Linked DNA regions of Homo sapiens. The protein of the gene in region 1 interacts with the protein of each later gene in a pairwise test. Each region holds a gene or a part of one and is shown in the gene's direction. Other genes may lie near its edges.

Region 1 (3,500 bases):
TCCCAAGTAGCTGGGATTACAGGTACACACCACCATGCCTGGCTAATTCTTGTATTTTTAGTAGACACGGGATTTCACCATGTCGTCCAGGCTGGCCTTAAACTCCTGACCTCAAGTGATCCACCTGCCTCGGCCTCCCAGAGTGCTGGGATTACAGGCATGAGCCACTGAGCCCGGCCCAATCTCGTTTTATAATACTCCCATCTCCCATTCTTTCCACTGTCCCACCTGCAAGTTTGGATTATTTTGTAACAAATCTCAATCATCATATTATTCTATAACCATTTTAATATGTGTCTCTAAAATATATTAGCTTTATTTTTAACATAGTTAAATGCTATTGTCATAAAATAATAATCATAATAATTAATTGTAATTCTATATCATCAATTATCTAGTTAATGTAAAAAATAAATCTAAGGCCAGGCGCGGTGGCTCACACCTGTAATCCCAGCACTTTGGGAGGCTGAGGTGGGCAGATCACCTGAGATCAGGAGTTCAAGACCAGCCTGACCAACATGGAGAAACCCCATCTCTACTAAAAATACAAAAAATTAGCCAGGCGTGGTGGCGCATGCTTGTAATCCCAGCTACTTGAGAGGCTGAGGCAGGAGAATCACTTGAACCCGGGAGGCGAGGTTGCGGTGAGCCGAGATCGTGCCATTGCACTCTAGCCTGGGCAAAAAGAGTGAAACTCCATCTCAAATAAATAAATAAATAAATAATAAAAAATAACTTAAATCTACTTAATTAGAAAAACTAACATTCTAAAAATTTTATTTTAAGAAATATCAAAATTGGCTGGGCACGGTGGCTCACGCCTCTAATCCCTGCACTTTGGAAGGCTGAGGTGGGCGGATCACCTGAGGTCAGGAGGGTCAGGAGTACAAGACCAGCCTGGCCAACATGGCGAAACCCTGTCTCCACTAAAAATACAAAAATTAGCCAGGCATGATGATGGGCACCTGTAATCCCAGCTACTCAGGAGGCTGAGACAGAAGAATCGCTTGAACCCAGGAGGTAGAGGTTGCAGTGAGCTGAGATCACCCCACTGCACTCCAGCCTGGGTGACAGAGTGAAACTCCGCCTCAAAAAAAAAAAAAAGAGAAAAGAAATATAGAAATTAAAGCATACATGGCCAGGCGTAGTGGCTCATGTCTGTAATCCCAGCACTTTGGGAGGCTGAGGCAGGCAGATCACTTGAGGCCATGAGTTCAAGACCAACCTGGCCAACATGGCGAAAGCCTGTCTCTACTAAAAATACAAAAAAATTAGTTGGGCATGGTGGTGCACACCTGTAATCACAGCTACTTTGGAGGCTGAGGCAGGAGAATCGTTTGAACCCAGAGGTGGAGGTTGCAGTGAGCCGAGATTGTGCCACTGCACTCTATCCTGGGTGACAGAGCGAGATACTGTCTCAAAAAGAAAAAAAAAAGGCTGGGCGCGGTAGTTCATGCCTGCAATCCCAGCACTTTGGGAGGCCGAGGCAGGCAGATTACGAAGTCAGGAGATGGAGACCATCCTGGCTAATACAGTGAAACCCCGTCTCTACTAAAAAATACACAAAAATTAGCTGGGTGTGGTGGCAGGCACCTGTAGTCCCAGCTACTCTGGAGGCTGAGGCAGGAGAATGGCATGAACCCGGGAGGTGGAGCTTGCAGTGAGCAGAGATCACACCACTGCACTCCAGTCTGGGCGACAGAGCGAGGCTCTGTCTCAAAAAAAAAAAAGAAAGCATACTCTCACCTCCTTCAGTGACTGATGTTAGTATTTTGGCACATTCTTTTTCTGTGACATATACACACTTACCTTGTAAGTGTTGTACTCATTTCCTATGACAGTAAATAGTCTTTGTAACAGGCTGCATGATATTTCATAAAATGAATGGATGTGGCATAATTTATATGTGAGCCTTTTGAATTCTGCTATTATAATTAATATTGCAATGAACAATTCTTATATTGCCTCTACACCTCAAATGTCTTATCATTTCTTCTAGTTTTTCTGAGGATGTCAGATTATTGGGTTAAAGGATATGAACATTTTTAAGGCCTTGGAACAGATTTCTAAATTGCTTTCCAGAATAATTCCCATGTGATACTTTCACCATGTTTATTTCAGACTTTTTTTTTTTTTTTTTTTTGAGACGAAATCTCACTCTGTCACCCAGGCTGGAGTGTAGTGGCATGATCTCGGCTCACTGCAACCTCCGCCTCCTGAGTTTAAGCGATTATTCTGCCTCAGCCTCCCAAGTAGCTGCGGTTACAGGCAAGTGCCTCCATGCCTGGCTAATTTTTGTGTCTTTTGTAGACATGGGGTTTCACCATGTTGCCCAGGCTGGTTTCGAACTCCTGAGCTCAGGCAATCTGCCTACCTCGGCCTCCCAAAGTTCTGGGATTACAGGCGTGCACCACCGCGCCCAGCCATCAGAGTCTTTTTTGTCAAAATAAAATGGTCTAAAGACATACATCATAGAGAAACTATAATACAAAATTTACAGGTATATCTAAGAAAAGAAAAGTATATTTAAAGCATAAAAATAAACTGCTCTTTTACTTAAAATTTTTTAAAAACTGGATTAAAAATATGAAACTTCCAACAAATTGAGCTTTTTTTTTTTTTTTTTTCTTTTTTGAGACGAGGTCTCGCTTTTGTCACCCAGTCTGGAGTGCAGTGGCGCGATCTCGGCTCACTGCAACCTCCACCTCCCTGGTTCAAGCAATTCCCCTGCCTCAGCCTCCCAAGTAGCTGGGATTACAGGCGCATGCCACCACGTCGGGCTAATTTTTTTGTATTTTTAGTAGAGAGGGGGTTTCACCATGTTGGCCAGACTGGTCTCGAACTCCTGATCTCAGGCAATCTGCCAGCCTGGGTCTCCCAACATGCTGGGATTACAGGCATGAGCCACTGCACTCGGCCTGAACTTTTTATAGTAGTAACGATAATTCAGTAATGTCCAATAATGACTAAGTAAGTTATAACAAGTACAATGTCAGCAATAACTAGTGCTTTTTAGTAAACAGGGTCAGGCAACCTTGTACCCTTTTAAAAATGTTCGAATATCGATATACCTCCTTCCTACTTGGTGGAGGATTGATTGAGGAGGAAAGTGTGCAGTGATGGTTACCAGCTTCAGCCTCTTGGCTTGACTTTGCAAATACTGGTGAGAATTTGGAAAGAGCTTGAGAATATCTTACATAGTCACATGTTGCTGAGAAGAGTTAAGAACTAACTTCTTGATGTTCATTTTTAACAATGGCTTGCATTCAAAACCTTGTAGAGCTCATTAGTAGGAGCTAAGAAGCTAATATTTGCCTTTCACTAAAATTCCTGATTACTTAGCCTAGGTAGTTCGTTGTCTCTCTAGGTTCTGTCTTTGGGAGCTTGGGTCTAAGGTTATCAAGCTAACTCTTTCTTCCCTCTCACCCTTCCCAAATTGACCCTGGTGCTGATTTGTTATTCATACGATTTTCTAGTTTTTCTTTTCCCTTTTTGAGTAT
Region 2 (4,646 bases), on another chromosome or scaffold:
CGTGTTAGCCAGGATGGTCTTGATCTCCCGAACTTGTGATCCGCCCGCCTCGGCCTCCCAAAGTGCTGGGATTACAGGCAAAATTTCTGTTTTCATTTAAGGCAGTGACTATTTCCCTTAGGATGTGATTTTTTTATCCTTCTAAGATGAGATCACCATCCTCAGAATAATTTGTACCCTGCTGGGCACTAGCTAATGGAGGTGATGTCATGCTAAGCAGCACTTCAGTGAGTTTTGCGGGAACCAAAGCTCTGCTCCCAGGAGTGTGGATTTGGTGCTTTCATGTGGAAAAAGCGGATGATGACAAGTAGAGAGCAAATGTGCGCATGTCTGATGCTGTAAGGATTTCATCTACCATCATATAAATTTTTAGAAGTATATCAAAATAAACTGATAACTGAGGCAATGTATGTTGTTCAGATACTAATAATGAAGTTAATGAAGTCCACTATAGTATTTGTATAGTATTTGTATATTACAGTACTCTGAAAAGCTGGTCACTATTTAAAGTTTCCATTACCAGTCACAAGGAGAGAATAATTTTATCCCACAATTTTATTGCTGGCAAAAGACACAAGTTTATTAAAAGTCAGTATTTCAGTGTAAGAGTTACTAGACTGTTTGCAGAAGTGTTCAAAAGAGATCTTTAGGTCCTTGGTTGTCTGTGGAAGCTGATCAGCATTTAGGGGTTCCTGAGCACAGACTGTGAACCCTGCATTTGGCACATGCATTCAGAGAGCCAATTTGAGGCAGACTGGGGGCTAGAAAGGATACTGCCAGGAGCTCCAGGTTCAGCTTCCGAAGTTATTAAGTCTTATTTCCCAGTTTTTAAATTAGACTTCATTTTTTAGAGCAGTTTTAGGTTCAAACCAAAATTGAGAAGAACGTACAGAGACATCCTGTATCCCACCTGCCCCCCAACACGTGCGTAGTCTCCCCCATTATCAACATCCTGCACCAGAGTAGTACATTCTTACAAAGGAACCTACACTGACACGTCATCATCACCCAAACGCCATCGTTCACAATCAAGTTCACTCTTGGTGCTGTTTATCCTATGGTTTTGGACAAATTTACAAGGACTTGTATCCACCATTATATTGTCACACTGAGTAGTTTCACTGCCTTAAAAAGTCTCCGTGCGGGCCGGGCACGGTGGCTCACGCCTGTAATCCCAGCACTTTGGGAGGCCAAGGCGGGCAGATCACGAGGTTAGGAGTTCGAGACCAGCCTGGCCAACATGGTGAAACCCCGTCTCTACTAAAAATACAAAAATTAGCCTGGCATGGTGGCATGCGCCTGTAATCCCAGCTACTCAGGAGGCTGAGGCAGGAGAATCGCTTGAAACCTAAAGGCGGAGGTTGCAGTGAGCCGAGACCACGCCACTGCACTCCAGCCTGAGCAAGGAGCGAAATTCCATCTCAAAACAAAAAAAAAAAAAAAAAAAAATTCTCTGTGCTGTCTCCCTCCCTCCTAGCCACTGGCAACCACTGATCTTTTTACTGTCTCCATAGTTTTGCCTTTTCCAGATTGTCAGATAGTTGGAATCATGCGGTATATATGGCCTTTTCAAACTGGCTTCTTTCACTTAGTAATAATGCATTTAAAGTGTTCATGGCTTGCTAGCTCATTTCTTTTTAGTGCTCAGTAATATTCTGTTCTCTGGATATACCACGGTTTATTTATTCATTCACCGACTGAAGGACATCTTAGTTGCTTCTAGTTTTGACAGTTATGAATAAAACTGCTATAAACATCTGTGTGCAGGCTTTTGTGTGAACATAAGTTTTCAACTCCTTTGGGTAAATACCAAAGAGTGCGTATTTACCATATGGCTGGATCATATGGTAAGAGTATGTTTAGTTTTGTAGGAAACTGCCAAACTGTCTTTCGAGTTGGCTGTACCATTTTGCATTTCCACGAGCAGTGATTGAGAATCCCTGTTGCTCCACATCCTCACCAGCATTTGGTGTTGATGGTGTTCTGGTTTTGGCCATTCTGCTAGGTATGTAATGATACCTCATTGTTGCTTTAATTAGCATTTCCCATTATTTGCAGTCTGTGTATCTTTGATGAGGCCCACTGGATTTTCACTTTAGATTTTCTATAGATTGGCCATAAAGTCTTGAAACAAAGATATTTTCTCATGGATTATAATGCAATATCAGTAAACTATTATGTGTTCACCTACGTTTCCAGACTTGTTAGCTACCCTGTACTGTTCTCTCAGTTAATCAAGTTAACCACAATTTGTTTCTCAACCACAGGTGGCTAATGATTTTGTATGTGGTCTGTCCGCTTTGAATTGATGTGCATGGGGCAAGTTGGTCTCTATGATATTCATGGTTCAAGGAAGTTCGAGATTTCCTGGTACCTAATACATGTTTATTGTACATATGAAAGAAAAAAGGGCAGATAGAGGGGAACATGGTACTGAGCATGATAGAGGCAAGGAAGGGTGGCTACTTTGATAGGAGAATACCCCTATTTTTGTCACTCTTGAAACAGGGCCAAGAGTTGAAATTGGCTAGAACAATCCTGACCTTTGTTGATATTATTTTATAGAATAATATTTGTTACTGTTTTCTCACTTTTAAAAAATGCAGATGTTATAGAAAAATTAGAAGATATAGAGGAATGTTAAGGAGTAAATAAGGTGTCAGTAATGCCATCACCCAGACAGCCACTGTTAATAAATATGTTAATATGTGAAGACATACTAATATGTAATATGTACTGAGTGACTAATGGCAGGTCACTTAGTAGCTGTCTCGATTATCAGATCAACTGTCATGGTATGGCAGTGTTTATGTTCAGGTACCCGTATTAGTTATTGTTGTTAATCCCTTTCTGCGCCCAAGTTATAAACTAAACTTTTTCATAGGTATGTACGTATAGGAAAAAATATGCTGCATATAGGCTCAGTACTGTATTTGGTTTCAAGCATCTACTGGGGGACTTGGGAGGTACCCCCTGCCCCTGCCCCACAGGTATACTACTGTATAATTATTCTTCTATCTAAAGTAAGATCTAATGGAAGATAGGAACTTTGTCTTGTCTTCCACTCTGTCCTATTTCCCAGGATGATACCTGGCACAAAGTATTTGTTTACTGACAAACTAAAAGATGATTTATCCCAATTATACTCACATCTTCCCTTGATTTTCCAGAAAGCCTACAGGAAGTAAGATGGTAGAAAAGCAAAGTCTTCGTAGAAATGCAGAGCATAGACTGGCTCTTGGAGAAGGTCAAACATCACCCTCTCCTGTGGTTAAATTGAGATGGTGGCACTGGCTGTCTTCTATATTATTGCTGCACCTTTCCTCACCAGGGGTGCACACAAAACTGGGAGAGAGGGGAGGAAGGAGCTTAGCTTTGTCTTAATAGAAGGGAAGAAATGATGTTTTCCAAGAGACCTTGAAATTGGGGACCTTGGTAAAGGTTTCAGTTTGGGAAGATAAAAAAGTCCTGGGATGGATTCCAACAGTGTAACTGTACTCAATGCCACTGAGCTGTACGCTTAAGAGTGGTAAATTTTATGTCTATTTCACCACAGTTTTAAAGATTAAAATTTTTAAAAGTGGGGGAAGTTACCTAGGACTTTCTAGAAGGACTTTTGAGGGTGAGCAAGTTCTGTTATAGGCTTGTGTATTATTTTGGTATTTCTGATTTTATCATAGGAGTGAGGTTAAAGTTGTATTTTGACTGGAATTTTTGACATTGTCAGGGTTTCTAGAGTGTGGAGAAGGTCACTCAGTATTTTTTGTTTTTGTTTTTTGTTTTGCCTTTGTTCTTGTTTTCCTCTATTTAGGGAGGTGGATTGCCATGGGAAGTACCTTTGCTTCGAAAAGCCAGAAAATGCCTGGTAGAACTCCAGAAAAGTAGTAAGGAGCTGGCTTCTTCAGAGGCAGCATAGCAGAGTGGGAAGAGGGCCCTGTCACTTAGATTGTGACTGTCGACAAAGTCACTTAACCACCAGAAGTTGGGTTTTCTGACGTTTAGAATTTTGAAAAGATTAAAACTGAGTGCCTTGCAAAGTACCTGGTATATATTAAGTGCTCAATAAGTGATAGTTGCTTTGATTCTAAGAACTGGTTCACCTTGTGAGATATAATTGTGTAATGGAAGAATGAAAGCAGAAACTTTAGTTTCTACTTTTACATTTCCTGGGCCATTTTACTACCCTAAATGAGAAGCTGGGCTTCCAAAACCCACTTTAAAAGTAAAGACTAGGCCGGGTGCGGTGGCTCTTGCCTGTAATCCCAGCACTTTAGGAGGCCTAGGTGGGCAGATCACTTGAACTCAGGAGTTTGAGACCAGCCTGGGCAATACAGCGAGACCGTATGTCTACAAAAAATACAAAAATTAGCCAGACATGGTGGTGCATGCCTGTAATCCCAGCTACTCGGGAGGCTGAGGCGGGAGAATTTGAGTCCAGGAGATCGAAGCTGCAGTGAGCCGTGATTGCGCCGCTGCCCTCCAGCCTGGGTGACAGAGTGAGACCCTGCCTCAAAAGAAAAAAAAAAAAAGAATAAAGATTAATGGAGATTTGGAACATCTTGATACTGTATCTTGGGAATCTAAGCATTGTAGAATTGTGTTATGTGAGTTATACCATTGTGGTGGGAAGTTTTTGATTTTTGTTT
Region 3 (3,986 bases), on another chromosome or scaffold:
CCTCTTTGACTTTGCATGGGTTCCCATGCTCTGGAGTGTACTTCCTGCTCTTCCTTGTTGGCTGGGACTCTGGGAGTGATCCCCTAGAGAAAGCCTTCCCTGGAGTCTCCAAGTTGGCTTCATGCATCTCATCTGGGCTCCTTGGCATCGTGTGCCTTTCCCTCCTGTGCTTACCATATTGTACCATCATCCTCTAGGGCTCCAGGAGGGCAGAGATCCATTGTGTTCAGTTCATCTCTGCATACTCAGTCTCTAGTGCAAGGCCTGGCACAGCCAGCAGGTTGGTGACTAATGATAGTTATTCTAATAGGTGAACATTGAGAACTCACATATATGACATTATTTAATCCCCAGGACCTCCCAATGAGGACAGTTTGATTATTATCACCCCATTTTACAGATCATACAATTGAGGCCAAGAGAATATTAGTAATTTAGCCAGGGTTACATGGTTAGCAAATGGCTCTAATAGGTCACTTAACCATTCCATTCTCTCTCCAAGTGAAAATTGCCACCAAGGCCAACCCTTGGGATGGAAAATCACTAAAGCCTGACAGTGTCCGGTCCCAGCTGGAGACGTCATTGAAGAGGCTGCAGTGTCCCCAAGTGGACCTCTTCTACCTACACGCACCTGACCACGGCACCCCGGTGGAAGAGACGCTGCATGCCTGCCAGCGGCTGCACCAGGAGGTGAGGGGGCCCTCCGAGCTCCAAAGGTGGGCTCCTGCTCCTTTCTTTATCCTGATCCTACTCATGAGAGCAGAGGCACCAGGGCAGTCCCAGGGTGGGGCAGGGAATAGCCCCATTCCCTGGGGCCCCACCCTGGCCTCCCCTTCCTGGTCTGGGCTACACTGCGTTCTGACTGGAGCCTCACCCATGCAGGGCAAGTTCGTGGAGCTTGGCCTCTCCAACTATGCTAGCTGGGAAGTGGCCGAGATCTGTACCCTCTGCAAGAGCAATGGCTGGATCCTGCCCACTGTGTACCAGGTGAGGGCCGGGGCTGCAGAGGCCAAGGTCTCCAGGACTCCTGCTAATCCTGGGCTCTCTTTGCCCCCCTGACTGCCCCCTGTGCCGTCTGCATAGCAGCCACTCCCCTGCTGAAAGCCTGCAGATGGCTCCCATGTACCCTCAGGATGCCATTCAAGCTCCTCAGCCTGGCCACTGGGCATCTGCTTCCTTCCTGCCTATCTGTGCACCTTGGACCCTTCCTTCCCCACCTCCTTTCATACTTCAGCCTGGAACACATTTCCCCTGCCCTCCTCCCTGGGAGAAGCACTCAGGCCTTACATAGAGGTCTCCTCCTCTGGAAGCCTTTCTAGACAGCCCCATAGGAGTCTCCAGTCTCCAAATCTCATCTTCATACATTCAGCGAGTACTTTCCAGCTCCTTGTTTGATTGTAGAACCTAACTTTATTGTAATTAACTGCCTTCCTTGTCTATTTTTTTAAACTTGAGTAAACATCTCCTGGAAGCAGGGATTTTGTGATACCTACTTGTGGTTGTAACCAGTGTCCAGCATGGAGTTCATACAGCAGATATTTGTGGAAAGATACCATTCCACTTCAATTTTCTGTCCTTGGGCCCAACACCTTCCCTCCATCCCCTACTAACAGTAGTGATGTTAGAATATTGCTGAAGTCCTGGGCCGGTGTTGCTTTAGAGGTTTGAAAGTGGAAGGCAACAGTTCCTTCTCTTGACATGTCCACCCTGTCCCCGGGGTCCCTCTCCCTGCAGGGCATGTACAACGCCACCACCCGGCAGGTGGAAACGGAGCTCTTCCCCTGCCTCAGGCACTTTGGACTGAGGTTCTATGCCTACAACCCTCTGGCTGGTACGTGGAGCATTCCTGACCCTGTCTCAGCCTATTCCTGACCCACAGATGCCCAGCCCAGAATTTATGAAGCAGGGAGGGTTTGACAAGAGGCTGGGCTGTGTTCTTCAGCCCCTCCTGGGTCCCTGCCCCTCCCCTAGACCAGAGCCCTGAGGGATGTGGCAGCTTCTGGGGCACTCTGGGGCCAGGGGCTGATTGCTGCCTTCCCGCAGGGGGCCTGCTGACTGGCAAGTACAAGTATGAGGACAAGGACGGGAAACAGCCTGTGGGCCGCTTCTTTGGGAATAGCTGGGCTGAGACCTACAGGAATCGGTGAGCCGGGGGTGGGCTTGGTGAGGATGGCTGGGGTGGGGTCAAATCTATGTGGAATGAAGTCCTGGGCTGTTCCTGAGGTAAGACCTTCCTTTGCTGTTTGCATCTCCTCCCCTGCATTGCTTCAGGAATTCCCAAGCCCTCTGTGGGTTTTCTTGTTGTCTTGAGACCTCTGGGGGGGAAATGAGGATCCCTGGATGTTGGGGTCTTGAAGTCATAGCTCGTTCCTGAGCAATCACCTGCTGGGAAGCAAAAAGCGAGCCCAGGATGGGCCAGGCATGGTGGCTCACACCTGTAATCCCAGCACTTTGGGACACCGAAGTGGGAGGGTTACTTGAGCTCATGAGTTCAAGACCAGCCTGGGCAACATGGTCTCTACAAAAAAAAAATGCAAAAAAGTGGTCAGGTGTGGTGGTGCACACCTGTCTGTAGCCCAGCTACTTGGAAGGCTGAGGCAGGAGGATTACTTGAGTCTAAGAGGTTGAGGCTGCAGTGAGCCATAATGATGCCACTGCACTCCAGTGTAGGCAACAGAGTAAGACCATGTATCAAAAAGCAAAAAGAGAGCCCAGGAGGGAATCCTGCCCCATCTGAGCAGCCTTCGTGTCCCTAGGGAAGTCCCTAGGCTACTGAGTCCTCAGGAGTAAAGATCCATTGAGGTCTCTGCTGAGGGGCCCAGCATCCTGGGTGGTTCTGATGCCCAGCAAAGTGGGAGACCTATGACTAGAGAGGACACCCGCCCCTCAGGGCTGCAGGGTGTGGGGTGGGGCAGTGGTCCTGGATGGCTATTTGGTTGCGGCTCCCAGTGTGACCCCCATGGTACTGACCCCTGTGCTAACATCCCCTCTGCACAGCTTCTGGAAGGAGCACCACTTCGAGGCCATTGCGTTGGTGGAGAAGGCCCTGCAGGCCGCATATGGCGCCAGCGCCCCCAGTGTGACCTCGGCTGCCCTCCGGTGGATGTACCACCACTCACAGCTGCAGGTAACCAGCGACCCTGGGTGCTCAGCTTCTTCCCTTCCAGGGGGACCAGCGTCACCTTTAGGTGAAGCCCAAAGCATTTGATTTCTGAATTCCTCTGAAATTTTTCTTTCTTCCAATTCTCATAAGCACTCTTCCCACTGGTCTTTGATGGTATCTGAGTGGAGGCTTTGTAGTGAGGGATTTTCATTACAGGGATTTTCTTATTCCTTAGGCTTTCTGAAGTATGATTATCCCAGTGTTATTGATGAGGAAACCGAGGTTCACCCAGCTATTAAAGTGGCAGACATTTTAACACAGGTTTAACTAAGACCCACCCATCTCACCCTTTTGGTTTCTCTCTCTTGATGCCTCATGTCTTCCTGGTTAAAACTTATTTCCTGATCAGTGGCAGTGACCCACACCTGTAATCCAGCACTTTGGGAGGCCGAGATGGGAGGATTGCTTGATCTCAAGCATTTGAGTCTAGCCTGGGCAAGAAAATGGGACCCTATCTCTACAACAAATCAAAAACATTAGCCAGGTTGTGATGGCTTGCTCCTACGTTCCCAGCTACTCTGGAGGCTGGGATGGGAAGATGGCTTGAGCCTGGGAGGTCAAGGCTGCAGTGAGCTGAGATTACACCACTGCACCTTAGCCTGGGTGACAAAGCAAGACCCTGTCTAAAAAAAACAAGCAAACAACAATGAAAATAACAGCAACAAACTTATCTCCAGCTTCAGCCTTCCATGTTGCATAGTGTCTGGCATATATCCGGTAGATGTTCAGTACGTGGGAGCTGTGTTTTACATAAGTTTTCTCATTCCAATGCTGAAAACAGAGAAAAAGATTGAATGTCATGCCTGCATCGACAGCACATATA
Region 4 (4,646 bases), on another chromosome or scaffold:
TTAATGTGTTTTGGAGTTGCTCTTCTCGAGGAGTATCTTTATGTTGTTCTCTGTATTTCTGAATTTTAATGTTGGCCTGCCTTGCTAGGTTGGGGAAGTTCTCCTGGATAATATCCTGAAGAGTGTTTTCCAACTTGGTTCCATTCTCCCTGTCATTTTCAGGTACACCAATCAGACGTAGATTTGTTCTTTTCACATAGTCCCATATTTCTTGGAGGCTTTGTTCGTTTCTTTTTTCTCTTTTCTCTCTAAACTTCTCGCTTCATTTCATTAATTTGATCTTCAATCACTGATACTCTTTCTTCCACTTGATCAAATCGGCTACTGAAGCTTGTGCATGCGTCATGTAGTTCTCATGCCATGGTTTTCAGCTCTATCAGGTCATTTAAGGTCTTCTCTACACTGTTCATTCTAGTTAGCTATTCATCTAATCTTTTTTCAAGGTTTTTAGCTTCTTTGTGATGGCTTCGAGCATCCTCCTTTAGCTCAGAGAAGTTTGTTATTACTGATCGTCTGAAGCCCTCTTCTCTCAACTCATCAAAGCCATTCTCCATCCAGCTTTATTCCATTGCAGGTGAGGAGCTGCGTTCCTTTGGAGGAGAAGAGGCACTCTGATTTTTAGAATTTTCAGCTTTTCTGCTCTGGTTTCTCCCCATCTTTGTGGTTTTATCTACCTTTGGTCTTTGATGATGGTGGCGTCCAGATGGGGTTTTGGTGTGGATGTCCTTTCTGTTTGTTAGTTTTCCTTCTAACAGTCAGGACCCTCAGATGCAGGTCTGTTGGAGTTTTCTGGAGGTCCACTCCAGACCCTGTTTGCCTGGGTATCACCAATGGAGGCTGCAGAACAGCAAATACTGCAGAACGGCAGATGTTGCTGTCTGATCCTCCCTCTGGAAGCTTCATCTCAGAGGGGCACCCAGCTGTATGAGGTGTCAGTCGGCCCCTACTGGGAGGTGCCTCCCAGTTAGGCTACTCAGGGGTCAGGGACCCACTTGGGGAGGCAGTCCAACTGTTCTCAGATCTCAAGGTGAGACCACCCTTTGAGTGGTCGTACACAGAAAATGTATAGCTTGCTGGGCCACAAACTGGTTCTGTGGATTCCCTGACCCTCTGACCTTTGGTTTCATCTCAGTAACAGTGGTCCGGGATACATAACAGCCAGTAACTGTAAGGTGATCGCTTTTCTGTGGCCTGGAATAAGTGCGGCAGGCAAGGAAAGGCTACAGAGGCCTGGCTCTTACAGCAGCCGGTCTTCCTAGCCACCCCCGCCCACCCCACCCCTTCCGTTCACACACTGCAGCTAACTTGGTCCCTGGGCCTGGCTTGGGACAGACAGAGGCGTCATCTTGTTCTCATATGCGGGAAGGCTATGAAAAGAAAACCGCGTGTTGGTCCAAAATGTAAACAAGAATTACACTAGGATCTTTTGTTCTCACTCTGACATGGTCAGAATTAATTTGGAGGTCCAAAAAGAGGGCGTTTTGTTTTTTAATCTGAATTACTTAATGCAGGGATATGTAGGGGGTGGTGGGGAAGAAACAAAAATACGTTGCTTAAGTCTATCAGTTGGTATTGGACCATCCCCAGGTCATTCTTCAGGGTCCAGTTTTTGTCATTAGGGGGTTCCTAACTTAGACTTCATATCCAAGTTGCTGATTAAACTTACTGTGAAAAGACCTAGATGGTAGAAGGCAAGCAGTGGAATGTGTCTGGGTATCCGAGAAATATACAGAAAGCACTTAAGAGAACTTAATCATTTTTTTCTCCCTTTCCTTAGATTGAATAGGGAAAACCTGCTTTCTGCAAACAACTGAAAAAGCTGCATTTAGAAACTGTTTCTTTGGCCCTCATCGAGAAGCTGGAACTTGTATTGTTAGGCCCCTTATGGGACAAGCTCTCAACTGCTGATCACCCAGTGATTGTCACCATGGCCAGCAAGAGGAAATCCACCACACCATGCATGATCCCAGTGAAGACTGTGGTGTTGCAAGATGCCAGCATGGAGGCCCAGCCCGCTGAGACCTTGCCTGAAGGACCCCAGCAGGATCTGCCCCCAGAAGCATCTGCTGCCAGCAGTGAGGCAGCACAGAACCCCAGCAGTACTGATGGCTCTACACTGGCCAATGGGCATCGGAGCACTTTAGATGGCTATTTATATTCCTGTAAATACTGCGATTTCAGATCCCATGACATGACCCAATTTGTGGGACATATGAACTCAGAGCACACAGACTTTAATAAAGACCCAACCTTTGTATGCAGTGGGTGCAGTTTTCTGGCAAAAACCCCTGAGGGGCTTTCCTTGCACAATGCCACATGTCACTCCGGGGAAGCCAGCTTTGTGTGGAACGTGGCCAAGCCAGACAATCATGTGGTTGTGGAGCAGAGCATCCCTGAGAGCACCAGCACTCCTGACCTAGCGGGTGAGCCCAGTGCTGAAGGGGCTGATGGACAGGCAGAAATCATCATTACCAAAACTCCAATCATGAAGATAATGAAAGGCAAAGCTGAAGCCAAAAAAATTCATACACTCAAGGAGAATGTCCCTAGCCAGCCTGTGGGTGAGGCCTTACCAAAGCTGTCGACTGGAGAAATGGAGGTGAGAGAGGGGGACCATTCCTTCATCAATGGGGCAGTTCCAGTCAGCCAGGCATCTGCCAGCTCTGCAAAAAACCCCCATGCCGCCAACGGGCCCCTGATAGGAACAGTGCCAGTTTTGCCAGCTGGCATAGCACAGTTCCTCTCCCTCCAGCAGCAGCCCCCAGTGCATGCCCAACACCATGTCCACCAGCCACTGCCCACGGCCAAGGCCCTTCCCAAAGTGATGATCCCCCTGAGCAGCATTCCAACGTACAATGCAGCCATGGACTCTAACAGCTTCCTGAAGAACTCCTTCCACAAGTTCCCCTACCCCACCAAAGCCGAGCTCTGCTATTTGACTGTGGTGACCAAGTATCCAGAAGAACAGCTCAAGATCTGGTTCACAGCCCAAAGGCTGAAGCAGGGGATCAGCTGGTCCCCTGAGGAGATTGAGGATGCCCGGAAAAAGATGTTCAATACAGTCATCCAGTCTGTGCCTCAGCCCACAATTACGGTTCTAAATACCCCACTCGTCGCCAGTGCTGGCAATGTCCAGCATCTCATCCAGGCCGCTCTTCCAGGTCACGTTGTGGGGCAGCCAGAGGGTACAGGAGGGGGACTTCTGGTCACTCAGCCATTGATGGCCAATGGGTTGCAAGCAACAAGTTCCCCTCTCCCCCTCACGGTGACATCCGTCCCCAAGCAGCCAGGTGTGGCACCCATTAACACTGTGTGTTCAAATACAACGTCAGCTGTGAAGGTGGTCAATGCGGCCCAGTCGCTCCTCACGGCCTGCCCCAGCATAACCTCCCAAGCCTTCCTTGATGCTAGCATCTACAAAAATAAGAAATCTCATGAACAGCTGTCAGCTCTGAAAGGGAGCTTCTGTCGGAACCAGTTCCCAGGGCAGAGCGAAGTTGAACATCTCACAAAAGTGACGGGCCTCAGTACCAGAGAGGTGCGGAAATGGTTCAGTGATCGTAGATACCACTGCCGGAACTTGAAGGGCTCCAGAGCGATGATACCTGGAGATCACAGTTCCATCATCATTGACTCTGTGCCAGAGGTGTCCTTCTCCCCATCGTCCAAGGTCCCTGAGGTAACCTGCATTCCGACAACAGCCACACTAGCAACCCACCCTTCTGCCAAACGACAATCTTGGCACCAGACTCCTGACTTCACACCAACCAAATACAAGGAGAGAGCCCCTGAGCAGCTCAGAGCCCTGGAGAGCAGTTTTGCACAAAACCCTCTTCCTCTTGATGAGGAACTGGACCGCCTGAGAAGTGAAACCAAAATGACCCGACGAGAAATTGATAGCTGGTTTTCAGAGAGACGGAAAAAAGTGAATGCTGAGGAGACCAAGAAGGCTGAGGAGAATGCCTCTCAGGAGGAAGAGGAGGCTGCTGAGGATGAGGGTGGAGAAGAGGATTTGGCCAGTGAGCTAAGGGTCTCTGGTGAAAATGGCTCTCTGGAAATGCCCAGCAGCCATATCTTGGCAGAGCGCAAAGTCAGCCCCATTAAAATCAACCTGAAGAACCTGAGGGTCACTGAAGCCAATGGCAGGAACGAGATTCCAGGGCTGGGTGCCTGTGACCCTGAGGATGATGAGTCAAACAAACTGGCAGAGCAGCTCCCAGGCAAAGTGAGCTGCAAAAAGACTGCCCAGCAGCGGCACTTGCTGCGGCAGCTCTTTGTCCAGACACAGTGGCCAAGCAACCAGGACTATGACTCCATCATGGCCCAGACGGGTCTGCCACGGCCAGAGGTGGTGCGCTGGTTTGGAGATAGCAGGTACGCACTGAAGAACGGCCAACTCAAATGGTACGAAGACTATAAGCGAGGCAACTTCCCACCAGGGCTACTGGTCATTGCCCCTGGCAACCGGGAGCTCCTGCAGGACTATTACATGACACACAAGATGCTGTATGAAGAGGACCTGCAGAACCTCTGTGACAAGACCCAGATGAGCTCCCAGCAGGTCAAGCAGTGGTTTGCTGAGAAAATGGGGGAGGAGACCAGAGCCGTGGCAGACACAGGCAGTGAGGACCAGGGCCCTGGTACTG
Region 5 (4,646 bases), on another chromosome or scaffold:
CATACCATCTGCTCCAACAGCAGTTTATCCTCTGTCCCTTTTTTGTTTCGTTTTGTTTTCTGCCAAGAAAGAGTAAATGTGTTCTTAGCATTTCCCCCACCCAGATCTTAGCTCACCGAGGTCCCTGGCCTCTTTGCTCTTATGGGTTCTTGCTTCCCTCTTATATTGGCCTTTGGTTACTGGCCCCTCTGACCTCCTATGATCTGCATCTTCTGTGCAACTCCTTATAGCACGGAGCTTGGTGCTCATCTTATTTCCAGTGTGCTTCCTGTCCTTACTCTCTGGAGAAAACCTGGATGATGTCTGTTAAGGCCTCTGCATTCTCTTCTGTCACCCTTCCTTTCCTAAGACCTCCCTGGGATCTGCCTCTCTCCTCTGAACTTCTTGGACTGCCTTAATGAGGTGTGTATATCTGGCCAGACTGCTTTTCCATCCTAAGCTATCGTGAATTCTGGCATGGCACAGTCCCTTTTTTTTTTTTTTTTTTTTTTTGAGACAGTATCCCACTCTGTCACCCAGGCTGGAGTGTAGTGGCATGATCATGGCTCACTGCAGTCTCGGCCTCCCAGGCTTAGGTGAGCCTCCCAAGTAGCTGGGACTATAGGCGTGCCACCATGCCCCATTAATTTTTTCTTTTAATCCCCGGAGATGGTCAGGAAACGGTTATTTTATTTGTTTATTTATTTTTTATTTTGCATTTTTTGTAGAGATGGGGCTTTGCCATGTTGCCCAGGCTGGTCTGGAACTCCCAGGCTCAAGCAATCCACCTGCCTTGGCCTCCCAAAGTGCTGGGATTACAGGTGTGAGCCACCGTGCCTGGCTGGTTGATGGTCACTTTTTCTCAAGGTTTTGGCACATCCACCTCGCCTGTCAGTCTCTCCTGTTCCAGGCAGACCTTGCTGCTCTTGGTCAAAGATTTTTCTCTAATCACACAGGACCAAAAGCCAACACTGAGTGCTGCTCTCTGAGCAATGCCCTGCTCAGTGACAATTGGCTAATTAAAGTGTAAACTGATCTGAAGGCCAGGCTCTCCTGGGATGCTTGCAAATCAGATCAAGTTTACTGCAGGCTCCAGGCTGAAAGACTATCCCCAGAATGGTCCAGTGATCATGATCCATAGCTTTGTATCCAACTCCAGGAGGAGGTTAATGAGCATCATTTACATCATTTTCATTGAATGTGCTTAACACGGAAGGGATTGCCAACAAGAAGCTCCTTGTATGGAGTCAGTTCTCTAGGCCCAGCAGTGTTATTTGTGATTGCCTAACCAGGCGGAATGAGACCTAAAGACAGTGAAATGTGTAACCTGTGGTAGATAACATTTAAAGATGCCCTGTGTTGTCTGGATAGGCCAAGTTATACTAAGGTTATAAACATCCCCCAGATCTCAAGGGCTGAACACAATGACAATTGATTTCTTTTTCACATAAAGTCAGCTAAGGGTTCAGGTGGTTCTCTAGAGTACCTGTCCTCCATGTGTCATCTTGATTGTCCAGACTGATGGAGGTTTCACCTACCTGAGACTGTAGCACCTGGAACACAATCTCTTCCATGTAGCTTGGGAAGAGAGGACTGGGCAAGGTTGAACACAGGTACTTGAAAGGCCTTGGAAATGACACACCTCGTGTCTGCTCCTGTCTCATTGGCTAGACCTAGTTATGTGACTGCCATTAACTTCAAGGAGGCATCCCCCACATCTGTGGAAGTGAGAGAGCCCAGGACGAGTGTCAACAAGGACCTCCAAAGTCACTGTTGTACTCTTGCTCCTACAGTTACTTTGACGAGCCAGTGGAGTTAAGGAGCAGTTCTTTCTCTAGCTGGGATGACAGTTCAGATTCCTATTGGAAAAAAGAGACCAGCAAAGATACTGAAACAGTTCTGAAAACCACAGGCTATTCAGACAGGTATGAATGCAAAACTGTGGGGTTGTAGTAGTGAATCCATGCATTTCTGGGAAAAAATTGCTGATAACATGATGACATGAAAACCCTTGTAAGGGGCTGGGCACGGCGGCTCATTCCCATAATCCCAGCACTTTAAGAGGCCGAGGTCAAAGGATCACTTGAGCCCAGGAGTACAAGGCTGCAGTGAGCTATGATCACGCCAGTGTACTCTAGCCTGGTCAACAGAGTAAGTCCCCCTCAAAAAGGAAAACCTTTTGAAACCTTTTGTAAGACTAGTAAATGATTTTGTTCTACTATTTCAGGAATATTGTTTTGATTTTGTTTTTTTGTTTTGTTTTGTTTTATTTTTGAGACAGAGTCTCACTCTGTTGCCCAGGCTGGAGTGCAGTGGTGCAATCTCAGCTTACTGCAGCCTCCGTCTCCCAGGTTCAAGCGATTCTCCTGCCTCAGCCTCCCGAGTAGCTGAGACTACCGGTGCACACCATCATGCCAGGCTAATTTTTGTACTTTTAGTAGAGACGGTTGCCTCACCAGCCAGGCTGGTCTCAAACTCCTGACCTCAAATGATCCGCCTGCCTCGGCCTCCCAAACTGCTGGGATTACAGGTGTGAGCCACCGTGCCCAGCCTGTTTTGATTTTAAATTACTGATTCTAAATAGGAAGTGCACATCAGAATCCTCTGTGGACCTTGAAAGAAATGTGTGTGTGGAGTCCTCTTCCCTGAAGATTCTGATCCATGGGTCAGGGGTGGCCTAGGTCAGGAAGGTTTCACCTTTTTCCCCAATTTTTTTTTTTTTTTTTTTTTTTTTAAGATGGAGTCTTGCTCTGTCACCCAGGCTGGAGTGCAGTGGTGCAATCTCAGCTCACTGCAAGCTCCGCCTCCTGGGTTCACACCATTCTCCTGCCTCAGCCTCCCGAGTAGCTGGGACTACAGGCGCCCGCCACCACGCCTGGCTAATTCTTTTGTATTTTTAATAGAGACGGGGTTTCACCATGTTAGCAAGGATGGTCTCGATCTCCTGACCTCATGATCCACCCGTCTTGGCCTCCCACAGTGCTGGGATTACAGGCGTGAGCCACCGCACCCGGCCTTTTTTCCCCCAATTTTAAGGTATTATTTACATATAGTAAAATTCATCTTTTTAAACTTACAGTTCTGACAAGCACATACATTCATGTAATTACCACCAAAACCAAGAAACAGAACAGTTCCCATCACCCCCAAATTTTCCCCATGCCCTTTGTAGTCCCCCCTCCCCTGCCCCTGGCCCCTGGTCACCCCAGGTCTGTTTTCTGGCCTTACAATTTTGCCTTTCCCAGATATCATATAAATGGAGTCATGTAGCAATTGGCCTTCCTACTCTGGTTTAACTTGTCTTAGTACACTTGGGGAAGACTCATTCATTCTTGTATTCATTCCTCTTACTTGCCAAGTTTATCCATTCACCTGCTGAAGGGCTGTCTCCAGTTTTTGGTGATTATGAATGAATTTATTTTCCAACCAGAGGACTTCTGAGAGTGCAAGGGGGTACTACTAATATGTTGGGACAACAGGTGTGACTTGAAATTGTCCCAGGTAACTGGGACATTTTATAACCTATACAATGTAGAGAGAGCAGTGTCCTATGGACATTCCAAACAATGTATTCAGTGTTTACCCAGTTGATCTGAAATGTGATATAACATATTTGAACTGAAATGTGAAATAACAGACCCCGTTTTAAACAGAAATTCCTTCAAATTTTGTATCGTTTGGGTATTTATTCTTTTTTTTTTAATTAGAATTTTCAGGCTTTTAAAAACAGCCTAAAATCCTTTTACAAAATTTACTGCTGTTGGCATTTTAAAAAATAAAATGAGTATGAAACACATTTGCTTCACCTCAAATTAGTTTAACCTAATTTGGCTGTTTTTAATTGCAGACCTACTGCTCGCCGCAAGCCAGATTATGAGCCAGTTGAAAATACAGATGAGGCCCAGAAGAAGTTTGGCAATGTCAAGGCCATTTCATCAGATATGTATTTTGGAAGACAATCCCAGGCTGATGTAAGGGTCCAGAGAGTTTCTTTGGGTGCCCCATAATGCAGGAAGGAAGTGTGGGTGTGGGCATTGTCGGGGAGGAGATCCTGAGTGAGCTGGGCTCAGGCTGCCAGATGCCCTCTGGCCTGAAAGTGCTGGAGTCAGGACTTGAACCCAGGTCTGTATAACTGATCATGTGCTTGCTACCTCAGCAAGAGGAATGTTTACAAGACAAGGACTTATCTCACAGTTGTCTTATTCCTCTCTTGGTGTTTTGAATAGCCATTATCCAGTATCTTTTGAATATATTTCAATTGTTGGTGCAGCTGTAATTTACTTAATAACTTTTAAACATAGTGAAATGAAGCACATAGATATGTTTCTTTTTTTTTTTTTGAGACGGAGCCTCCTTCTGTCACCCAGGCTGGAGTGCAGTGGCATGATTTCAGCTTACTGCAACCTCCGCCTCCCAAGTTTAAGCGATTTTCCTGCCTCAGCCTCCCAAGTAGCTGGGAATACGGCCGTGCACCACTACACCTGGCTAATTTTTGTATTTTTAGTAGAGATGAGGTTTCACCATATTGGCTAGGCTGGTCTTGAACTCCTGACCTCAGGTGATCTGGCTGCCTCGGCCTCCCAAAGTGCTGGTATTACAGGCGTGAGCCACCACGCCCAGCCAGATATGTTTCTGAGGAGTGCATATATTTATTTTCAGGTTGTTGG
Region 6 (3,500 bases), on another chromosome or scaffold:
CTAAAAATGGAATGTTTAGGACTAGGCATATTTGTTAGGAAAAAGGCAACCAAAAGCTTATATTTGGATAAATTCCACTTTTTTAGCCCTGACTAGTTCCAAGGTTAAAGCAAACCTCAGTGAATATGAATGTATTGTCAGAATTTCCTGGAGAAAGAGAACAGTCTTTATTTTTATTAGTAAATGATGTGAGTTAGTTTGAGATTACCTATAGAAAGGATAGAATAGTCCAGGCGCAGTGGCTCACGCCCATAATCCCAGCACTTTGAGAGGCCGAGGTGGGCGGATCACCTGAGGTTGGGAGTTCGAGACCAGTCTGACCAACATGGAGAAACCCCGTGTCTACTAAAAATACAAAAATTAGCCAGGCGTGGTGGTGCATGCCTGTAATCCCAGCTACTTGGGAAGCTGAGGCAGGAGAATTGCTTGAACCCAGGAGGTGGAGGTTGTGGTGAGTCGAGATTGTGCCATTGTACTCCAGCCTGGGTAACAAGTGCGAAACTCCATCTCAAAAAAAATGAAAGAAAATAAAGATAGGATAATGCTACCATCTGTGAGTTGTTGGGACACAGTGTTGGTTTTGAAATGATTCAGAGTGGTTTGCACAGTGAACACCCAAGTGTGCTTTATAGTTCCCTTGGCTTTGACCCTGTGCTAGAGCATTCATTACCTGTTCATCTGCTCTGCATTGAAAGGAATATTTGTCCTTTTAAATGTATTCAGAAAGCCAGCACATTATATTACCTCGTGTTCAAAGGTATGATGATCCAGAACACTCCTTCAATAATTACCTGAACTTTATCATGAACTATGGTTGCACCTAATTGAAGATGCAAGTGTTAATGTGTGTTTATTTTAGGGCCTTCATCCTAGAATAATCACTGAAGGATTTGAAGCTGCAAAGGAAAAGGCCCTTCAGTTTTTGGAAGAAGTCAAAGTAAGCAGAGAGATGGACAGGGAAACACTTATAGATGTGGCCAGAACATCTCTTCGTACTAAAGTTCATGCTGAACTTGCAGATGTCTTAACAGAGGTATGTATTAAATTTTGTCTATGTCTGGTATAGTATACCTATATAGAAAATCTCTGATAGTAGAAACATGAATATGATTACCAATTTCAATTACAAGGTGCTGTGTAGGTTCATTTTTGTGGCAATGATACCTAATCTGTGTCTCTAAAAATGAGGAAATTAAAATAATAGTATACCTAACCAGGTTATAAAAGTAAAATTGAAGCTTTCATTAAAAGGTTTATAAAGTGGAGATTTTTTTATTAGAAAGCTTCCAGTTACCAGTATTTTTAATAAAACGAGGAATGTTAATGTTAATTAATGTTAATGTTTGGGAATTATAGATGGAGATTTCAGAAATGTAAATGACTTCAGCTGTTGCCTTTTACATATAATGTATTCTATTTGCTGATAGAAAAAGACTTAAATCAGTGTAGAATTGTAAAATGAAACTGCCTACTTTAGCCTTCTGAAAAGCAACATGTTTCTGCTGCAAATTGAATTTACTTAACGGTTATGCTCCTCCAATTGCAGGCTGTAGTGGACTCCATTTTGGCCATTAAAAAGCAAGATGAACCTATTGATCTCTTCATGATTGAGATCATGGAGATGAAACATAAATCTGAAACTGATACAAGGTAGGTGGTAGAAGACTGTGAAATACTAATGGGCATGGAGGCTCACACCTGTAATCCCAGCACTTTGGGAGGCTGTGGTGGGCAAATCACCTCAGGTCAGGAGTTCCAGACCAGCCTGGCCAACATGGGGAAACCCCGTCTCTATTAAAATTACAAAAATTAACCAGGCGTGCCGGGCATGACTGTAATCCCAGCTACTCGGGAGGCTGAGGCAGCAGAATAGCTTGAACCTGGGAGGCGGAGGTTGCAGTGAGCTGAGACCACACCATTGCACTCCAGCCTGGGTGACAAGAGCGAAACCCCGTCCCATTAAAAAAAAAACAAAAACAAAAAATAAACTGTGTTTAGAAATTTAGGGGTGCTTTGTACAATATAGATAGTTGGCTTTTTTTTTTTTTGAGATGGAGTCTTGCTCTGTCGCCCAGCCTGGAGTGTACAGTGGCATGATCTCGGCTCACTGCAAGCTCTGCCTCCCGGGTTCACACCATTCTCCTGCCTCAGCCTCCCGAGTAGCTGGGACTACAGGCGCCCGCCACCATGCCCGGATAATTTTTGTATTTTTAGTAGAGACGGGGTTTCACCATGTTAACCAGGATGATCTCGATCTCCTGACCTCGTGATCCGCCCACCTCGGCCTCCCAAAGTGCTGGGATTACAGGCGTGAGATGGCAATTTTAAAAATATCTTTGGATATAAAATGTTATATATTTACCTGAAGATATAAGTTGGATAAACTGCTAGGAGAATATTGTTTTTAGTAATATTTTCTCCTGAAATAAGGTGAATGTTATGTTTATGGTTAGAATGATTCTGAAAAGTGAACAACATCAGTCATTTGGCATTTATTGAATTGCTAGGTACAAAGCATAATGAGAAGTAGTAGAGGAATTTAAAAAAATATTTTTTTCAAAGAGTTAGTTAGAAAACATGTTTGTTTTCCCTTTGGGGTGTGTGTGTGTGTGTGTCTGTGTGGAGAATGGAGTCTCCCTATGTTGCCCAGGCTGGTTTTAAATTCCTGGGATTAAGGTGTCCTCTCACTTCTGCCTCCGTAAGTGCTGGGATTACAGGTGCTTGGTAGAAAACATGTTTTTAAAGGACGTCATCACAGTTTGACAGCCTACCAGTGAGACCATCTCTGCAGACTTTTCTGTACAGCGTAGGATCTTCAGGTAATTTAAGAAATAGGCCGGGCGCAGTGGCTCATGCCTGTAATCCCAGCACTTTGGGAGGCCAAGGCGGGCGGATCACGAGATCAGGAGATCGAAACCATCCTGGCTAACACGGTGAAACCCCGTCTCTACTAAAAATACAAAAGAATTAGCTGGGCATGGTTGTGGGTGCCTGTAGTCCCAGCTGCTTGAGAGGCTGAGGTAGGAGAATGGTGTGAACCCAGGAGGTGGAGCTTGCGGTGAGCCAAGATGGCACCACTACACTCCATCCTGGGCAACAGAGCGAGACTTCATCTCAAAAAAGAAAAATGTGACTGCGTGAAATATCAATACCTTCTCATTTCAGTGTTTAATATATTAAATACCCATCTGAAAATCAATAACCATAATTTTGTGTGTGTTTAAACAGCTTAATCAGAGGGCTTGTTTTGGACCACGGAGCACGGCATCCTGATATGAAGAAAAGGGTGGAGGATGCATACATCCTCACTTGTAACGTGTCATTAGAGTATGAGAAAACGTAAGTTTATAGCCCCTTAACAGTGAAATGGAGAAGCTTCGTATTTTAGGCGAGTTACTTTTTTGTGAAACTTTGTTTCCCACTGTAAGGACAATAATGCTCAAATTGGTTTGGGGGAGCTATAGGAAACAGTCTCTGAAGATGCATAAGGGGCAGGATTG
Region 7 (4,646 bases), on another chromosome or scaffold:
CAATATTTCTTTTTTCCAAGTTCACTGTATTGCCTTCCCCCTCACCCCCTGAGAAATAGATCAGAATCAGTTTATCACTTTAAAAATATGTATTTCAGCTGCTTTCTTCTATTTCCTTAAGGTTACATTTCTGATCTTAACCCTAAAAAGATTTTAGGATTTCAATCCTTAACAAGGATTGAAAACTACCAGGCTGGCGTTTGACTAGAACTGATTTTAGAGGGAGTTCTTTTAGGCCTAGAGATTCTGATGGTGAGTTACAAAGGCTTATGGCTTTACACGGATGGTAGGGCTAGGGGAGGGCCTCGGATTGATAGACCAATTTTTCATTTTACAGAAGAGACCCCTGGCTCACCCAAGGCCCAGAGCTAGAGAGAGCCAAACCAGGCTGAGAAGCCTGGTCCCTGCCTCCAGGTCGGGTGCTCCTGCCATAAATGCCCTTGTCAGGAATGGGGCATAACCTATGACTTTGTATCCTTCACTCTTTTCAAGCCTTTTGATGACTAATCTTTCAAAGACAAATTTTTATCAGATCTTTGGAATGAACACCTTAATCATAAAAACTGTAGTTTCTATTTCATTCATTCTTATATAATATCTGCAATGTTATTTTTTCTAATAAGGGCCTCCTTAATTAATTTTAACTTAAATTCTCCTTTTTTCATCATTGTTATGAGACATACCCTGTAAAACCACACCATCCAGATTTCATTTGAGAGTAAAAACCAGGCAGGACTAAAAATGGTCTGAAAGACTGTCTCAAGAACAAGGCAGTGACTTTCTCTACTACCTGTCTTTTCTCTATTATCTGTGAGGACGGGATCTGAAATATTATTTAAAGTTAAAATAAATAACCTTTTTTGTCAAATAGAGAAACGGGTGATGTTTTCACTCTAGAAGGTGTACCTTTGCCTAGGATCTGTCTGTAATACATTATCTTTCCAGATGGATATATATGAGTGTGTTTGGAGGTGACGAGAAGTGAATTGAGTCTGGAAGTATGTTCTTTGAGGTTTGACTGGCAAAACTTGACCAATCATAACCAAAAAAATTCATGCATGCAACACAGAGGGCTCTAGAGCACCACACATTTGATTTAAGATGATATTTAGTCTGTGCTGTATTTAAGATGGGGAATAACAATGTCTAAATAGAAATCCTGAATGCACCTACTGCATGTGTTGTTTGGCCTCACCCACAGGTTTCCTCTCCAGCTGTTTGCATGCGATTTTATATCAGAATTCAGGTCTCTTTTTATTCTTTTATTACACTGAGGAGCTCCTGTGTTGCAGGCATGATTTCTCCAATAGAACACATTTCAGCCAGTTTTATGCAGTCCTCTCTCTGTTGGCTTCCTAAGGGGGAAAAATACATGCAACAACAACAACAACAAAATTTTTGTTTTTGTTTGAATTAGCTGACTATTAGAAGAAATACATGTAATCTCTATTTGCCAGATCTGGTAGGACCATTTCACTTTATCAAAACAAGATCTTCTCCTTTAAGTAAGTTGGCTTCTGACTGGCCAGGTATTAATTCATGCATCAGACAGTAGAAGGCATTGGGATAAAGTCCGTTTCCACCAGGGTATCTAGCTATGGTGTGGTGCACCATCATGAAGGGTCTGATTTGCCTCACTGCAATGACAACATTGTGCAGAAAAACACTGACTCCTAGGAGGAGAAACAATATTATAGGCTCAAGCTTCTAAAATCATATCAGGGAATGATCCTGTGTCGAAGGTGACTGTCAGAACGCTGGGGGCCTCCAGGGTCATTTTCTAAACTACAGCATGACAAAATGTTCTCTTTGTCTATTCTCTGCATTTTCCTTCAGGTAGTGTTTCCCTAGATTCATTCTTTAACATCCATTTCAACTACTCTGCCTTGATGAATAATCCTGCAGTAACAAGTCACAAATGTGTACACAGCAGAGCAGAGATATTTTTCCATAAGGAAAATAGATTTTTATATCAAATCTTAGAAGAAACAATTAGCAAAACAAAAGGGGGGAAGAAGAGTTGAAATTAGATTGATGGCATAACAAGCTCTGTCCATTCGTGGCTCTGCAACAATGAGCAGCCTGAGACTGGAGGAGGGACGCAATTCCCAGAGAGCTGCCTTGAGCTTATTGTGCTTCTCTGCCTCAGTTTCTTCATTTGTGATGAGAATGTCGGGCTCACCCAGCACTGTCCGGTAGTGAGAGCTGCAAATGTGAGCTGCACATTTCATTTTAAACGTTTTAGTAGCCACATTAAAAAGGTTAAAAAGAAACAGGTGAAGTCATTTTAATAACACTTTGATTTAACCTGATATATCCAAAATATTATCATTTAAACATATAATCCATATAAAAATGTTAATGTACTACTTTACATTCTCTCTTTCTCTCTCTTTTTTTTTTTTTGGTACTAAATCTTTGAAATCCAGTGTGTATTTCACAACTACAACATATCTCAATTTGGACTAGCCACATTTCAAGTGCTCAATATCCACGTGTGGTCGGTGACTATGGTATCAGACAACACAGGGTAAATCAGTGGTTTATGATCCTGGCAGCCCAGTAGTACCACCTGTGGAACTTATTAAAAAACACTGATACCCTTCCACTCTGACATTCTGATTTAATTGGTTTGGGGTGAAGGCCTGAGCCTCTGTATATTTTAAAAGCTCCACAAGTGTTTCCAATGTGTAGCAGAGGTTGAGAACCACGGTTCTAACTGATCTCTAAGGAATCTTCTACTCTAATATTCTATGATTCTATTTCAGGAAAGGGATTGCAGTAAAGCGTTCATTCAGAGTTCAAGGGCAGCAAGCAGTTGTTACAAGCATGCTGCACCCTGCAACACATATTTAAGAAAATATAACTGATAAAGATTAAAATTTACAGAATGAATAACTTAGACAATAATTCTTTGCACCACAAATGGGCTCTGTTTTGTGTAACTTTCAAACGTGGGTGTTTTAAATGGTCTGCTTCACTAGAAATCTTAATTTAGGATTTGATTTACATGTAACCTCGTAGAAACCCTCTGTTTCGGAAAAGGTCAGGATTCTCACATTTCAGTTACAGTATTTTGCCAGCTTACTCTTTTGCCCCAGATACTTGCCTTTAGTTGTTTGGGGAGGGAAATTTTTACTCCAGTTGAGACATCTGGATCCCCCAGAATTTTCTTCCTTCCAAGCTTTTAACAAACTTGTGTTATTGCCTAGACCAGATTTTCTCATGTCAAGATGTTAGTTATAACCTCCTAGACTTAAGGTATTCATTTTTATTTGTCACCTTTTAAAATATTAGAAGAATCAATGTTTTTCAATGCACATCAGAATGCTTTATTTTAATATACCTGTTTTTTATAATACACCAGTCTGTGCATTCACTAAAGGATGCAAAAAGTATAAAATAAAAAATAATTTCCAAACTCCTCACGCACCTTCTTGTGAAGTCTACAGACAGAATTGTTTGTGGAGGGGAGGAGAGACCTTGGTGTCAGCCTCTTGTGACTTCATGCTGCAGAGAGCCTCTGCATCCCCAAATTCATGAGTCATTTCACTCTGACCCTCTCTCTCCTTATCCCCTGCAGAGCCATCTATGTCCAAATACATGTCTATTCAACCATATCGCCTTTAAAGCATGACTATAAACTAGTTTTAAATATAAAATTACATGTTTTTCTACATTTTGTGGTGATATTTGTGTTTTCTGTAATGTCATTCATTGGAAGAATGTTAGCTTTCATTTATTAACACATATCTCTAATCCCCATTTTATAGATGGGAAAACTAAGAGATTGCCAAGGCTAGGCATCCTGCTCATTGATTAGATGGGTGGTCGGTATGAGAAAAGAGCTCACATTTATTAGTGCCATGTATTCCAGATATTCCAGATAGAAGCACTGCTTTGGGTTGCTTCCAGGTAGGGATTTTCCAATTGCTTGTACTATTGCGCTTGTCTTTGTATTTATAAATAACATTCTTTCGGGTGCTTTCCCATGCATTATTTGCAGTTAAATGGTTTCCTTGCTAATACCTCTTACTTTCCAGCTTCAGGCTACATGTAGCTGGATTGATTAGTAAATACATAAGGATATATTAACTTCTTAACATGGAATCTGTTTTAAAAGTTGCATGGAGACATCTGTTGCAAACCTGTGTGTTTGGTAGTATCCAGGGAAACTTTCTCTCAGGCTACTTTGTGATTGACTGTTAAAAGTATTGTGTGGAGAGACAATGAGATTAATGATGTAAGTTACTCATCTGTTTTGGGGATTGAAGGCAAAGGTCTGTACAGATTCATTTGTTGAGCAAGATAGACTCTAGCCCTACCTCCTAAATTATCTTTTATAAAACACTTTAGCCCTTGTCGTGCCAATGTACTGTCTTCACACTTGGTCTGGAGCCATCTGTGTTTAAGTATTTGGTTTTTGTTTTCTCCTAACAATGGTGATACGTTGGCTTGGCCATTTGCAGTCTCTGTCTGCATTTCTGTGTCTTTGATGGGTGAGCTGTTGATTAATAGTGCAATTTTCGACCAGTGCCAGGGGGCGATTATTTTGGATTCTTTCCTCCAAGCATCATGCTAAATTTAAAGCAATTTTAATATTCATACATATACATGCTTATGGTGTTTATGCTTATATGAAAATA

Evidence for each region.
Region 2: the proteins of ATXN3 (region 1) and CASP3 interact in binary tests that used the Homo sapiens proteins (3 or more experiments, as listed by UniProt).
Region 3: the proteins of ATXN3 (region 1) and AKR7A2 interact in binary tests that used the Homo sapiens proteins (3 or more experiments, as listed by UniProt).
Region 4: the proteins of ATXN3 (region 1) and ZHX3 interact in binary tests that used the Homo sapiens proteins (3 or more experiments, as listed by UniProt).
Region 5: the proteins of ATXN3 (region 1) and ARFGAP3 interact in binary tests that used the Homo sapiens proteins (3 or more experiments, as listed by UniProt).
Region 6: the proteins of ATXN3 (region 1) and CCT6A interact in binary tests that used the Homo sapiens proteins (3 or more experiments, as listed by UniProt).
Region 7: the proteins of ATXN3 (region 1) and CREB5 interact in binary tests that used the Homo sapiens proteins (3 or more experiments, as listed by UniProt).

What each region holds. Positions count from the first base shown.
Region 1 is NC_000014.9:92,075,583-92,079,082, reverse strand, and holds part of ATXN3 (ataxin-3 reference isoform), read left to right. Parts: intron 1-3,500. UniProt on the Homo sapiens protein: Deubiquitinating enzyme involved in protein homeostasis maintenance, transcription, cytoskeleton regulation, myogenesis and degradation of misfolded chaperone substrates.
Region 2 is NC_000004.12:184,638,833-184,643,478, reverse strand, and holds part of CASP3 (caspase-3 isoform a preproprotein), read left to right. Parts: intron 1-4,646. UniProt on the Homo sapiens protein: Thiol protease that acts as a major effector caspase involved in the execution phase of apoptosis. Following cleavage and activation by initiator caspases (CASP8, CASP9 and/or CASP10), mediates execution of apoptosis by catalyzing cleavage of many proteins.
Region 3 is NC_000001.11:19,305,159-19,309,144, reverse strand, and holds part of AKR7A2 (aflatoxin B1 aldehyde reductase member 2), read left to right. Parts: intron 1-502; coding exon 503-690; intron 691-882; coding exon 883-987; intron 988-1,734; coding exon 1,735-1,831; intron 1,832-2,043; coding exon 2,044-2,143; intron 2,144-2,997; coding exon 2,998-3,127; intron 3,128-3,796; exon of another isoform or gene 3,797-3,934; intron 3,935-3,986. UniProt on the Homo sapiens protein: Catalyzes the NADPH-dependent reduction of succinic semialdehyde to gamma-hydroxybutyrate. May have an important role in producing the neuromodulator gamma-hydroxybutyrate (GHB). Has broad substrate specificity.
Region 4 is NC_000020.11:41,202,198-41,206,843, reverse strand, and holds part of ZHX3 (zinc fingers and homeoboxes protein 3), read left to right. Parts: intron 1-1,777; 5' UTR 1,778-1,927; coding exon 1,928-4,646. UniProt on the Homo sapiens protein: Acts as a transcriptional repressor. Involved in the early stages of mesenchymal stem cell (MSC) osteogenic differentiation. Is a regulator of podocyte gene expression during primary glomerula disease. Binds to promoter DNA.
Region 5 is NC_000022.11:42,808,071-42,812,716, reverse strand, and holds part of ARFGAP3 (ADP-ribosylation factor GTPase-activating protein 3), read left to right. Parts: intron 1-1,772; coding exon 1,773-1,904; intron 1,905-3,826; coding exon 3,827-3,950; intron 3,951-4,646.
Region 6 is NC_000007.14:56,054,765-56,058,264, forward strand, and holds part of CCT6A (T-complex protein 1 subunit zeta), read left to right. Parts: intron 1-600; exon of another isoform or gene 601-738; intron 739-859; coding exon 860-1,033; intron 1,034-1,546; coding exon 1,547-1,650; intron 1,651-3,228; coding exon 3,229-3,339; intron 3,340-3,500. UniProt on the Homo sapiens protein: Component of the chaperonin-containing T-complex (TRiC), a molecular chaperone complex that assists the folding of actin, tubulin and other proteins upon ATP hydrolysis.
Region 7 is NC_000007.14:28,414,961-28,419,606, forward strand, and holds part of CREB5 (cyclic AMP-responsive element-binding protein 5), read left to right. Parts: intron 1-4,646. UniProt on the Homo sapiens protein: Binds to the cAMP response element and activates transcription.